Homo sapiens: one gene and its partners. The protein of the gene in region 4 purifies or fractionates together with the protein of the main gene of each other region. This does not show direct contact. Each region holds a gene or a part of one and is shown on either strand. Other genes may lie near its edges.

The links.
Region 1: the proteins of DGKG (region 4) and FBXW8 purify together in Homo sapiens (affinity purification with mass spectrometry; one large-scale study listed by BioGRID and IntAct). This does not show direct contact.
Region 2: the proteins of DGKG (region 4) and ZC2HC1A purify together in Homo sapiens (affinity purification with mass spectrometry; one large-scale study listed by BioGRID and IntAct). This does not show direct contact.
Region 3: the proteins of DGKG (region 4) and DHTKD1 purify together in Homo sapiens (affinity purification with mass spectrometry; one large-scale study listed by BioGRID and IntAct). This does not show direct contact.

What each region holds. Positions count from the first base shown.
Region 1 is NC_000012.12:116,913,950-116,917,602, reverse strand, and holds part of FBXW8 (F-box/WD repeat-containing protein 8), read right to left. Parts: intron 1-3,653. UniProt on the Homo sapiens protein: Substrate-recognition component of the Cul7-RING(FBXW8) ubiquitin ligase complex, which mediates the ubiquitination and subsequent proteasomal degradation of target proteins.
Region 2 is NC_000008.11:78,711,089-78,714,741, reverse strand, and holds part of ZC2HC1A (zinc finger C2HC domain-containing protein 1A), read right to left. Parts: intron 2,753-3,653; coding exon of another isoform or gene 2,636-2,752; intron 116-2,635; exon of another isoform or gene 43-115; intron 1-42.
Region 3 is NC_000010.11:12,096,454-12,100,106, forward strand, and holds part of DHTKD1 (2-oxoadipate dehydrogenase complex component E1), read left to right. Parts: intron 1-1,230; coding exon 1,231-1,543; intron 1,544-3,653. UniProt on the Homo sapiens protein: 2-oxoadipate dehydrogenase (E1a) component of the 2-oxoadipate dehydrogenase complex (OADHC). Participates in the first step, rate limiting for the overall conversion of 2-oxoadipate (alpha-ketoadipate) to glutaryl-CoA and CO(2) catalyzed by the whole OADHC.
Region 4 is NC_000003.12:186,278,629-186,282,281, reverse strand, and holds part of DGKG (diacylglycerol kinase gamma), read left to right. Parts: intron 1-1,537; coding exon 1,538-1,612; intron 1,613-2,308; coding exon 2,309-2,431; intron 2,432-3,653. UniProt on the Homo sapiens protein: Diacylglycerol kinase that converts diacylglycerol/DAG into phosphatidic acid/phosphatidate/PA and regulates the respective levels of these two bioactive lipids.

The DNA of each region.
Region 1 (3,653 bases), on a different chromosome or scaffold from region 4:
TCACTTTTGATTGCTAACTTATTAGTTGTTCTCTCTCTAGTGATGGATACTGAAGACTCTGAAGTGGAGGAGACTGCACCAGAAATACAACAGGGTGCACTAATGAAAGTGCCAAAGGTTGGAGAAGAAACGGGGGCAGGGAGGAAGTGTAAGAAGGTAGTACCAGATTTTATTTCCCATTCATGTCAAGTGGATCAGCTTCTGTTAAAGATTCTAGGGAGTCTCAAATGGAACTAACTCTTCCTTTCAGGAGCCACCCATGGATCAAGCAAGGATTCTTGGGAAGGCACAAGGCAAAGATGATAAAATGGTTACCCAAGGCAGATCTAGCCCACTGACAGGTTTTGTTTAACCTGCAATGTTAGCACCTAAAATCTTATTAATTTTTATTAGTTACCAACAATTAAAAATTGGAAGAGCTTTTGAGGTAGACTGACATAGTGATGGCCCCAAATTTGTTCATGTCTCTCTGTATCCAAGCACTTGGGTAAATCCACACTGACTCTGGACTTGGCCACATGAGAATAACAAACATGACCTATGCAGACTTCAAAAGCACCATTGCATCTGGCCACTGGGGCTCGCCCTCTTGCTGCTCTTGTAACTCTGAGAATGCCCACTTGGGGCTAAGCTAAGCTGCTGTATGATGACTCATAACCCAGATACACACCTCTTTCTCTCTCTCTCTCTCACACACACACACACACACACACGCACAATTAGCCAACCCCTAGAAGCAGAGCAGCCTAGGTGACCACAGCTAACCTCAGACACACGAGTGAGCTCACCCATGCCCAGCCCAAGCTGCCACCCTGCAAAATGGTGAGCTAAATCGTGGTTGTTTTAAGCCAACGTTTTGGATGGTGTTTTTAAGTGAGACAGAATCTATTTTGCCCAGGCTGGTCTCAAACTCCTGGGCTAAGGTGATCCTCCTGCCTCAACTCCCCCAGCAGCTGGGAGTACAGGCATGTGCCACCATGCCCAGCTTGGATGGTTTTCTCATGCAGAAAAAACTGAAGGAGTCCACATAAAAATACATATTCCCAATTAAAAAAAAAAATCTAAAGACCTTACAACACTGGGACCACATTCCTACAGGGCAACAACCAGCTAATGGGGGCAGTGGTTATTACCCTGACCCCAGCCATGGCATGTATTTCCCAATGTGTCTTTATCATCTTGCCCATGCTGGGGTCAAGTTCTGCTGTCATGTCATCTCAGCTGGGTGTTGATTTATGGTAAAGAAGAAAGTGAAATACTACATTCCACATACACAAGTTACTATCAAAAGTGAGAAAACCAGTACAACTACTTTGGAAAACTGTCAGTATCTACCAAGGCTAATCTATGCATACCTTATGACTCACCAATTCCACTCCCAAATGAATACTCAGGAAAAATGTGGACACATTTTTCAGAAGATGTACAAAACATTTATGGTGGCACTATATCTGAGAGTCCCAAACTGGCTATCAACAAACTAGCAACAATTCCCATCAACAGTAGATAAGATGTGGCATATTCATAGGGATCAATCTCACAGATAATGCCATACACGAGAACTCAAAGACACATGAGTATGTGCTGTTTGACTCCACTTAATATACAGTTCAAAAACAAACAAACTAAATGTGGTGTTAGAAGTCAGGTGAGGCCAGGCATGCAGGCTCACACCTGTAGTTCCAGCACTTCGGGAGGCCGAGGCGGGCAGATCACAAGGCCAGGAGTTCAAAACCAGCCTGGCCAACATAGTGAAACCCCATCTCTACCAAAGATACAAAAATGAGCAGGCCGTGGTGGTGCATGCCTGTAGTCACAGCTACTAAGGAGGCTGAGGCACAAGAATCACTTGAACCCGGGAAGTCAGGGTTGCAGTGAGCCAAGATCATGCCACCGCACTCCAGCCTAGGTTACAGGGTAAGACTCTATCTCCCAAAAAAAAAAAAAAAAAAAAAAAAAAAAGTAGTCAGGTGAGTGGTTACCCTTGGGTGGAAGAGAAGTCAGGTGAGTGGTTACCCCTGGGTGGAAGAGAAGTCAGGTGAGTGGTTACCCTTGGGTGGAAGGGAACACAGGGCAGGGGAGGTGGTTCTGACATGCTGGTGATGCTGCCCTGTGACCTGGCTGCTGTTTACATGGATGTGTACACTTGAAAATTCATCAAGCTGTGTATTTAGGCCCTTGTAAAGGTCAATACATAGTTTGAGCTTAAAAACTTTTAAAAGTGGGAAAACAAGACCAAGATGGCCATGTTTAAAGACAATTCCTACATGTTTAATTGTGACAAAAAGAACAGCTGCCACTATGAAACGAATTATAAAGCTATGACCAGAACACATAAAAACACCTGATGAGCTGGGAGAAAAGACCTAATGTGCAACACCCAGCCTACCTCACTCACGTGCATTACCTGCCTTAGCCCTGTGGGCTCTGGGGCTTGCAACCACTGACACAGGAATCCAAGCCTTTTCCATAAACCTTGTCATCATTTATCAGCCTGGAGAGAAGGAGTAGGTTTATTATCTAAAAATCAGTTACTTTCCTAATGCTCATCTACAGATTAGTTGAAAATAGCCACTGGAGAGAGTTGTTGGGAGAAATGAAGACGATAATGTCTCTAAACCCTTAAGACAGTACCAAGGAGACAGTTTACGCACACAATGAATTATAACTTTATTTATAGCAGTGTTACTAATGATTGCAAAGTCTTGTTTTCATTTTTTATTTTTTGAGATGGAATTTTGCTCTTGTTGCCCAGACTGGAGTGCAATGGCACGATCTCGGCTCACCACAACCTCCGCCTCCTGGGTTCAAGAGATTCTCCTGCCTCAGCCTCCTGAGTAGCTGGGATTACAGGCACCCACCACCATGCCTGGCTAATTTTGTATTTTTAGTAGAGACAGAGTTTCTCCTTGTTGGTTAGGCTGGTCTCGAACTCCTGACCTCAGGTGATCTGCCCACCTCAGCCTCCCAAAGTGCTGGGATTACAGGTATGAGCCACCAGGCCCAGCCTTTTTTTTTTTTTTTTTTTTTGAGACAGGGTTTCGCTCTGTCACCTAGGCCGGAGTGCAGTGGTGTGATCCCGGCTCACTGCATCCTCGACCTCCTGGCCTCAATCAATCCTCCCACATCAGCCTCCCAGGTAGTGAGGACTACAGGAACATGCCACCACGCTGGCCAATTTTTGTAGAGATGGGGTTTCTCTACGTTGCCCAGGTTGGTTTTGAGCTCCTGAGCTCAAGAGATCCATCCACCCACCTCAGCCTCCCAAAGTGCTAGGATTACAGGCATGAGCCACCTTGCCCAGCCACAAAGTTTGCTTTTTGCCTGCTTTTGACAGGGTCTTGCTGTGTCACCCAGGCTGGAGTGCAGTGGTGCAATCATGGCTCACTGCAGCCTCAGCCTCCTGGGTTCAAGCGATCCTCCCACCTCAGCCTCCCAAGTAGCTAGAACTAAAGGGGTGCACCACCACACCTAGCTAAATTTTTTAAATTTTTTGTAGAACCAGGGTTTCACTATGTTGCCCAGGCTGGTCTTGAACTCCTGGGCTCAAGCAATCCTCCTGGCTTGGCCTCCAAAGTGGTGGGATTACAGGTGTGTACCACCACACCTGGCCTACAAAGTCCTCTTTAAAATTAGAGGTGCCCCAAAAGTTG
Region 2 (3,653 bases), on a different chromosome or scaffold from region 4:
AAATGAGTTAATATAATATTCCCTTTAAAGATTTAATTTTACCAACTGCACAGCCTGGGCTATCCGAAATCAGAGGGACTTCTGGTTGGATCATCCATGAGTCTCCATTTTGAAACTTTAAGAATCAAAGAAGGGTTAGAAAACTAAATGATGATGATATAACACTAAAAGCAGAGGCTTGGGAATTCAAATGAATTTAGATTCAAATGCTAATGCTACTGACAGCTTTGTGACAGCAAGTCTGAGTCTCATCATTTATAAAATGATCACTTATAGAAAGGTTATGAGAAAAAAAGTACAATTCATATAAACATTTAGATAGCTGATGCTAATACTATTACTACTGTTGTTGCCACTATAAGTTAACATTTATATAATAGTGCTTACTCCATGTCAAGTACAATTCTAATTATTTTGCCCATAGAAATTTATTTATCCTAATAATCCTATGAAATAGGTAGCGTTCATAACTCCATTTACAGATAAGACAAATGAGGTAAAGAGCCCCTAAGTAACTTACCCAAGGTGACCCTGCTAGTGTGTTCCAAAGCTAGGATTTAGATGTTCATTGAAGCATAGTTCCCTCCCTCTCTATAGAGCTTTAATCAAATCTTTAAATTTCACAGGTGAACAGTGTTATATGAACAGCAGAATACTTTAAAAAATACCTCCAGATTAGAGGTTCTTAAACTTTAGTTGAAATTTTTCTTACTCTACTTATATGGCAAAGTAGGAGAGAGTACCCTAAAATTGTAAATAGCTGCTTCCAAAGTACATGCAGGTAATAACAACATCCACTATTTTTCAAACAGCCACTACATGACAATTATGAAGCCAGATACTACACATGCCTTATTTAATGTCCCCCAAATCTCAGAAGATATTATTCCCATTTTAAAGTGGAAGCATGTTCAAAGAGATTATATAAATTGTGAGGCTACTACGTGGCCAGAGTAGTACTTGAACTTAAGTGGGCTGTATTACAGAACTCATATTCAATACACAATGCTGTCATTCAAAGTGGTTGCTTTGCATAGTTACTTCTTTAAATTACTTCTAAACTTCAACAAGCAAAGAATCACTTTGGTGCATGAATGGAATGCCCTGCACCTCTTCAAATGCTCACTCCAAGTCCATTCATGAGGTTTACTCTACTCTTGTGTATAGCCTCTTTGGGGATGTTGTAGAACTACTAGAGTCTTTTTCTAGAAATTCAATCTTTAGGAAATCATTGTCAAAGAATGGACTTTAAATAGGAAGAACACTTTTTTTTTTTTTGGCTATAGAATCGTCTTAAGTGCATGAGATATACAAACAATACAAACACACCCATGAATATATACACATAATGTCACCATATCGGTAACTTGAGGTTGTTCAAAATGTTTATATTTAGAGGAAAATATAAGAGATTATCATCATTAATAGCTACCAATATTAAATACCTGTCATTTATTTTTAGTAACATCTAGAATGGCCTTGATCACTTAAAACATCTTGCCCCAGTCTTACACAGTCCACAAATTTTTCTTTCTGTTCAGAATCTGCAAAGCATTACTCTTACTCTGTATCTAGAATCTACCTGTTAACAGCTCATATGAATAATTAAAGAAGGTTTAATTTTGGAATTGTACTTAATCCATCTTACTGCTAGTCACTGTTACTGTGAGATCTGCATCAGAGAGTTCTGACAGTAGAATCAGCAAAATGAAAAACGGCTCACAGCACAAACTCTTCCTGCTAGGATTTATCACTACTTAAAAATAGCAAATGGCTGCTGCTAGTATCTTAAAGACTTCTCCTACCTTTGTTTATCTAGTTAAATTTATTATTACTTTTCATACATACATACTGAGCAGACTGTTGTAGTAGGTGTTGGTTTAAAAGTTAACTAAGTTACTCTGCTTAATATTTTCCACCATTAATAGGTATATTAATTTTTAGGCCCTAATTTCATATTTAAAATGTGGGCTAGAATTGAGACCCAAATTAGTAAACCTTGAAGACTCATGCTGTAGAGTTTCAAAGTAACTGCCATTGCCACACACTCTTTTCAGCCAGCCAGGTCAGAACTGGCTGTGTCATACTCTTCCTCGAGCTTGACTCTTTGGCAGTGTCATACTTTTTCCCGGTTGTAGGCAGAATTTACAACCATCTAACAAAAAGACTAAGGACCCTTGGATTGAAAGTTTCCTAAAATCTTTTCTTTTTCTGGGCTTTTTATAATAGTTCACCATCGGCTTATCTAAGAGATAATCTAACAATATTATATACTGTACAAGACATTATTTTTCTCAAACTCTGCTTTTTAAAACTACTATTACAAAAAACCCTAATTACTACTAAAAAAAACTTCATAAAAATAATTATTAAATGTGACTGCAATTTGAAACCTCAAAAAATTAATATTTAATGGAATAAAATGTATAACCTAAAAAGTTTTATTTAGTACAACAGAAATGCTTACTAAAAATCAAAATGTTTTAAATCCTAGATTATTTGACACATTTTGGCTTAGAAATTATTCAACAGATTTTTTTAAGTATAGGACAGTAAAAGTTATGTTATTCCATTATATAAAGCTTTTAAGGAAATATCTGAAAAATATTAACCAAACTGAGTTACAAATACTTACTTGTAAATAGGTAATAACTCATGTCTTTTGATGGCACTGTCTGATTTTGTATCACTGTCATACAACCTTTGCACAAGTCTTCCCGTTCGAAGTGGAGGGCCTAACTTGTCCATATTACTATTAAAATATATAAAGGTGTACCCATAAGGAGATTGCTACTGCTTCTTTATATAAAGTTTTTTTAAAAGACATTATTCTGGTTCATCAGATATCTACTCCCCAAGTCCTTAATTTTATCTGACTGTCAAGGTAAGAACTAATGTCCAAAAGAATCCTCAGAGAGTTCATACAATGTCCATTATTAGGTCTGAAAATTCTGACTACACAGGCTACCCTACACATCCAAACAAATGTCAAATTATACACAGCAGGGCAATGGAATCAATGAAGAAACTTAGGAAGAACAACTATTTCAAAAAAAAAATCATGAAGCTATAAGTGAACTGAATGCTGTTATTCACAAATGATTTTTCTTCCTCCCAGAATTCATGGAAACTTTCTCTACTCTTCATATTATTTATTTCCGTGCTTTTTAAAATTCCAAAAATAAGGAATTGACTAAATAACATGTACTCCATTTGACTTTCTAACTCCACTGACTTCTAACAAAAAAGTGACTTTATTTCTGAAATGTATCCAAAGTAAAACAGGACTCGGCATGGAAAAAAAAAACATGGATGACAATTCTAAAAATCACATATAATAATGGTAAGGGGCCTATATATACACACACACATTTTGACCAAAATTATAAAGGCTCTCCATCTAGAGGATAGCAGGACAAACTGCAGGTTTGTAGGATATTTCACTGTTTTAAATCAACCAACCAAATAACTGAATCATATAAACTATCACCAACCAACATCTAGTCATAGTAGGAAGCAGGGAAAATTGAATTATGACATTAGGAAACAATCTTATTTGCTACTGAATAACACATCACTGCTTGTTAACTTTAAAAGTCTGTTCTTTTTAAGAGATATTTGCTCACTCATTTCTTTACTTATTCACTGACTAT
Region 3 (3,653 bases), on a different chromosome or scaffold from region 4:
CGGCTCACTGTAGCCTCGACTTCCTGGGCTCAAGCGATCCTCCCGCCTCCACCTCCTGAGAACCTGGGACTACAGGCGCTTGCCACTATGCCTGACTAGATGGGGTCTCACAGCGTTACCCAAGCTGGTCTCGCCATCTGCCCGTCTCGGCCTCCCAAAGTTCTGGGATTGCAGGCATGAGCCTCCTCACCTGGCCCCAGGGCGTTAGCTTTAAAATCTATCCTGCTTTCTTCTCTCTTTTATCAGGATTAAATATGATAATATATGTGAATAGACTTTATAGTTGAAAGTATGACATGAATGTAGAGTGACATTTATTGTAACACCCAGGTGTTGATGATTGTAGTTAAAGGATGATAGATGCAACCTGAAAGATTGCAACTTTCAGACTGGAGCAACTTTGGGTTCCATACCTTTTTAGATAAAGGGGGGTGCTGATTGGATAGACAGTGTGGGTCAGTCTTGGAAATAATTGTCAGAATTTACCAAATCATAGAAAAACTCTGTTAATTATTTCTATTTGGATGCAGACAAAAACTTATAAATTTGTTTTCTCTCAGTTGCCTGGAAAAGAGGTTGTTACTATGAGTGCCTTCATTTATTAAATTAATTTATTATATTTAACATTGTTTATTTATTTTGTTTCTGTTTTATAAACTTATTGAGATGAACGTGACATAATATAAAATTGGCTGTCTTAATGCGAACAACTCAGTGGCATTTATTTACCTTCACAAAGTGGTGCAACCATCACTTCTGTCAAGTTCCAAAACATTTTTCCTGAATGCCTTTTTATTTTATTTTTATTTATTTTTAATTTTATTTATTTGGTTTTTGAGACGGAGTTTCACTTTTGTTGCCTAGGCTGGAGTGCAGTGGTGCCATCTCGGCTCACTGCAACCTCTACCACTTAGGTTCAAGCAATTCTCCTGCCTCAGCCTCCTGAGTAGCTGGGATTACAGGCGCCCGCCACCATGCCAAGCTAATTTTTTGTATTTTTAGTAGAGACAGGGTTTCACCACGTTGGCCAGGCTGGTCCCGAACTCCTGACCTCAGGTGATCCACCCACTTTGGCCTCCCAAAATGCTAAGATTGTAGGTGTGAGCCACTGCACCTGTCGAATGCCTTTTTAGAGTGCTGACACTCCACCGCCCTTGACAGTGACTCTCCTTGTCTCTATTAGATTGTTACAGGTCAGACTGATTTTTGTTTCTTCTCTTTCTTGGGCAGAGCTCGAAAGAGCATTCCAGACACATATGCAGAGCACCTCATTGCTGGCGGACTCATGACGCAGGAGGAGGTGTCTGAAATAAAATCCTCCTACTATGCCAAGTTGAATGATCACTTAAATAACATGGCCCACTACAGGCCCCCTGCCCTGAACCTGCAGGCCCACTGGCAGGGCCTGGCTCAGCCAGAAGCGCAAATCACCACCTGGAGTACAGGTGTGCCCCTCGACCTCCTGCGGTTTGTTGGCATGAAGTCTGTAGAGGTGCCAAGAGAGCTGCAGATGCACAGTCACCTGCTGAAGACACATGTTCAGGTGGGCAGCCTCCAAATGGCTGGTTATTGCTTCTCCTTCCTGCTCAGCAAAGGAGCTGACGTTGGTCTGGTGTTTTCAGTTGTCTGATTCATTTGACAAATATTTATTGTGTGTCGTTAGGTTCTAGAAACTGATCCTAGTGTTGTTTTGGTACTGATAGTCAGTTACCTCAGATTTTCTCTTCTTTTCTTTTTCCTCCATGTATTTATTTATTTATGCATGTTCATACATTACATGTACCTGGAATACATGCACACTATAAGAAATACAGAGATACAAGAATGTCTGTTTTTATTTTTCCAACCAGTGAGTAGAAAACACTTTGTTTCAGGTGGCTTAAATAAAAGAAACAAAAGTCAACACACATACCCCAAGGTAGCCCCCTAAACATGCTCATGTTTTACGTATTGTCTTAGGATCACTATAGGATGACAAACCACCCTGGTGGACCTGGGACTTAGGGGTTTTCTGGAATGTGGGACTTTAAGTGCTAAAACAAGGAGAGCAAAGAGTTAAATGTCTTTTTCTTTCTTAAGCTTGGATGAAGGAACTTTGCCCTCTAAATTATTTTATTTTATGTTATTTTTGGATGGAATCTCACTCTGTCACCCAGGCTGGTGTGCAGTGGCGTGATCTCGGCTCACTGCAACCTCCACCTCCCAGGTTCAAACGATTCTCCTGCCTCAGCCTCCTGAGTAGCTGGGATTACAGGCATGTGCCACCATGCCCAGCTAATTTTTGTATTTTTAGTAGAGATGGGTTTTCACCATGTTGGCCAGGTTGGTCTTGAACTCCTGACCTCAATTGATCCATCCACTTTGGCCTCCCAAAGTGCTGGGTTTACAGGTGTGAGCCACCATGCCTAACATGAATTATTTTCAAACACTAACTTGGCCAGGCACGGTGGCTCCTATCTGTAATACCAGTGCTTTGGAAGGCCAAGGTGGAAGGATTGCTTGAGCCTAGAAGTTCAAGACCAGCCTGGGCAACATAGTGGACCTTATCGCTAGTAAAGATTAAAAAATTTGCCTGGCATGGTGGCGCATGCCTGTAGTCTCAGCTCCTCAGGAGGCTGAGGTGGGAGGATTGCTTGAGCCCAGAAGGTCGAGCCTGCAATGAGCTGAGATTGCACCACTGTACTCCAGCCTGGGTGACAGAATAAGATCCTGTTTCTCCAAAAAGAGGAAATTAAAAAAAAAAAACCAACCCACTAACTTTAAGTTTTTATTATAGGTACAGAGACTATTACAACAAACTATTAATATGTACTCATCACTCAGCTTAGGAAATAGGATGTTATAAATACAGTTCCCCACATACCCCTCCTTGATCCATCTCCTCCCACCTCCGCAGAGGTAACCACTAACCTAAGCACGTGTTTGTTTTGCCTGTTTTAAAATTGTATATAGGCCGGGTGTGGTGGCTCACTCCTGTAATCTGAGAACTTTGGGAGGCCAAGCCGGGCAGATTATTTGAGTTCAGGGGTTCAAGACCAGTCTGACCAACATGGCGAAACCCCTTCTCCACTAAAAAGTACAAAAATTAGCTGGGCGTGGTGGTGTGCACCCATAGTCCCAGCTACTTAGGAGGCTGAGGCAGGAGAATCACTTGAACCAGGGAGGCTGAGGTTGCAATCAGCCAAGATCACGCCACTGCACTCTAGCCTGCGTGACAGAGTGAGACTGCCTCAGAAAAAAATAAATAAATAAAAACTGTATATAATTGCTCTCCTTCTCTAATGTATCCTTTTGTACTCTGTTTTTATTCAGCATTGTTTTTGATGCTTAATTTCGTTGCTTTTTTTTTTTTTTTTTTTTTGAGATCAAGTCTTGCTCTGTCGCCCAGGCTGTAGTGTAGTGGAGCCATCTCAGCTCACTGCAACCTCCGCCTCTCAGGTTCCAGTGACTCCCTGCCTCAGCTTCCTGAGTAGCTGGTATCATAGAGACACGCCACCAGGCCTAGCTAATTTTTGTATTTTTAGTAGAGATGGAGTTTCACCATGTTGTCCAGGCTGGTCTTGAACTCCTTACCTCAAGTGATCCACCCGCCTGGGCCTCCCAAAGTGCTGGGATTACAGGCATGAGCCACCATGCCTGGCCTGCATTAAATT
Region 4 (3,653 bases):
CGAACACAGGCACTCCTCTTTGTGGTGGGGAATCGTTTTCAACTCAAAACCTGCTTCTGCTCCCCTTCTCCCCCAATCCAACAGGGAGGCCAAAATAAGCCAGTCCTCAACTCCTTCCTTCCCTGCATCCCTCTCTGCTTCCTTCTGTCCCCCATACCTGGCCAGGACAAATGGAATACCTATCCCATACAATAGGCCTTCGAGTATTTGAAGGTGCTATCACATCTCCCCTAAAATCTTCTCCAAGCTAAAATTTCTCTATTCCTACACTGGTTCTCATAAGGCAGGCTTAAATATCCACTTTGGACAAGCTCTGGTTTGTAAATGCCATTCCTGGAATGTGGCACAGAACAGAATCCGTCCCCTATGATTCTTTAAGTATCCAAATGTGGCCTGACCAGGAAGACCTCAGGGGAACTTTTTCTTTTTTAAATCTGCCAACTCTGCTTCTATTTTCATAGCCCAAGACTGAGTCCAATTCTTGGTTCCTGAAATACGTTTTCTCTTTAAATCTTGGACCCAACCAGAGATTCACAAGCTCTTTTCTTTTGGAACTTCTGCCAAAACCTTTCCCCACCTTTGTGCCCACTTTCTTACCCTCATCTACTGGCCTATCCTGTAGTTTTGCAATGGATTGTTTTTTAACTTAAATAAAATACAATTTTTTAAAATCCCTGCTGGGTTTTAGCTTGCTATTTGGACCCGGCATTCTATCTGGCAGAGGTAACACTTTTGAACCTTGCTTCAGTCTACCAACATGTCCTCCCAAAGCAATCTTACTGTGAACATCTTAACTGGTGCCTAAATGGTGCTAACTTTGACACCAAATGCCTCTTCAGTCTGGTGTGTTTCAGCGGGGCTCTCAGAACACTGACTCATTGGCAGCCAACAATTCTGTGAGGTTTTAGATGGAGCCTGGCCTCAGTACCAAAAGGCTCAGTCATCAAGTAAACATATTCCTCATGAGTTTCCTGTTCACGGACTCCTGGGGGCTGGGCTAAGGGCTGGACCATGGTAAAAAGGAAACAGAGGAGATAACAAAAGGAATCAAAATCATGGTACCTGAGCTGAGACACACACAGTAACCCTCCATGCAAGAGAAACTGGCCTCGAGCTGAGAGATGGATCCCAAGTTGCTACAGCTGTGGGGATGAGTGATAAGAAGTGACAGGAGAAATCTGCCTTGATTTGTAAGTATTTGTGGAAGCTATAATCACAAAGAGGGATAAAAATAGGAGTGCTTTCTATGCTTTCCAAGTTAAAGCACAGAATAAGGGAAGGAAGGTGGGTCCAGGAGGAAGTCAGTGTTTATGAGCTTTTTGCATACCTCCAGCTTATGCATGCTCTGTGCTTCTCGTGAGCTTTGTGGTCGAGACAGAAATAAACTGAGCTCCTCACAAAATGGCAGTTACTGCACCAGCTTCTTCTCTTGCCCTGCCCTGTCCCTCTTCCCACTGGGCTTAATTTTGAGTTCGGCTCTTAATGACACATCTCTGGTTGTCTCCTTTTGATATTTTCTCCCTTTGCTATTTTCTAGGAGATGGATTGCATTGTCAACCAAATGCTGCATATTGCCCAGTACCTGGAGTGGGATCCCACAGAGCTGAGGCCTGTGAGTTTCTATAAGGATGGGGTGGCTTTGGAGTGAGCTTCTAAGACGGGAGGGGGACACACTCAAGACATGAATGAGTGTTAACCCTGCAGGTGCTCCCAGACTCATCTTCTTATAGGCAGCTTCTTTGGAGTCCTGCACTTTACCTCCTACCTCTCTGATAGGAAAAATGTAGGCAGCAGGAAAACGTGCAGACATAACTGAAATAACCATGCTAATCTTTTCACCAGAACTAAAATGTTATAGCAGAAATTCATCAGTCAAAGAATTTAGAGAGAACTGTAGAGATTTCTATTAGAAAGAATTGTAGAGATCTTCCTCAATCACCAGATAATATGAATTATAAGAATAATTACATTTGGGGGCTCCTATGTGTCAGGTATTTTGTTATTCACTTTACATTCATTTTCTCTAATCCCTGCTACAGTGCCACAAACACAACAATATTATTTCCATTTTTACAGATAAGCAAACCAGAGCCCACAGAGTCAGGGTGACTGGCCCAAGGCCCAAGGGCAGAGCCAGACCTGGAAGCCTGGCCTCCTCACTCCCAGTCTGCTCTATTCACACTTAACAGGAGGGGAAAGGGGTAAAACACAAACCAGATAATGCAAGATGAACAAGACAGCAGAGGCAGAAGGCAGGTAGACATGTCGATGATGAAAATGGACAATGATTGCTCTTTGGATTCCACAGATATTGAAGGAGATGCTGCAAGGGATGGACTACGACCGGGACGGCTTTGTGTCTCTACAGGAATGGGTCCATGGAGGGATGACCACCATCCCATTGCTGGTCCTCCTGGGGATGGATGACTCTGTAAGTCAACAAGCTGGAGTTCAGAGATCTCTTGCCATTCAGGAACATTGGGCTTCATGTTAATATCAACATATCACTTTGGCTTCTGCTCCAGACTGCCCAACAGACGTGCCATGACCAGCCCCAAAGTCCTCTCTATTTACATTATTTTGTATCCATTAGTGCCTGAAGTATATTCATTTGACAGACATTTACTACATTATTACTACTTTAAAAATACTGTTCTGCATGCTGTGAGGGAATACAGACACATTATCTGCCTGCAAGAACCTTATACTCAACCAGGCAAAGGGCCACAAACTTCAAAGAAGAATTCTGTCTTTTCAACAAATTAGGTTTAAAAATGCTAAGAGAATTGGGGAAGGAAGGGTGAGAGGAAAGAACGAAGGGAGAGAGGAAAAAATACGGATCTGTTGTGGGGGTGGCTTCCATTAGTGGTATCTTATTTAATAATCAAAACAACCAGATAAGGTAAATATTTTTATCCCAATTTATACAGATGGAAAACTGAGGTTCTGACCCTAAGGAGCAAAAGGAGGAGTGAGGATTTGTCTCTGACACCAAAGATGTTGCACTTTGTAATATCCCACACATGAGAGTTAGGCCAGTGGGAAGAAACCTTGGAAGGTGTTGACTTGTCCCTGAAGAATGCATGAGATTTTGATGTCCCATTCTTGAGAATAAAGAGCAGGTGGCCTTAAAGACCTAGAGAGAGTTTATGGCTTGGAGAACAGCTTGATTAAAAACACAAATGAAAGAAAGTTCTGGGTGTGTTAGGCAAATCTCCCATTTGATCAGAGTAGGGCATATGTGTACAGGCTTAATGTGAAACTGATTGTTATATATACCTTCATCTGACCCAGTTACTGTATTCTCCACCTATTTACCAAGTGAACTCACTTCCATGCATGAGGTAGGGAAGACTAAAACTAGTAGGAGCACAAATGGTGACATTAAGCGTTTACTAGTCACACCAGTTGTGTGACAACACTACTTTGAGATTACAGATCTCAAAGATTACACCTCTTTGAGACTATTCCATAGAGAGGAACAGGGCAGCAAGTGCAGCTGGGTGAGCCTCTAGCTGACCAAGTTGCCTATAATATCTTCATTTCATAGCTCTGCAATTCAGGACTAAAGCTGAGCCCCCATTTCTGAAGCTCAAGAACTATGAATCTTGCAATCATTTCATAGCATGTCCAGTGCTTTCCAAGCTCTAAGG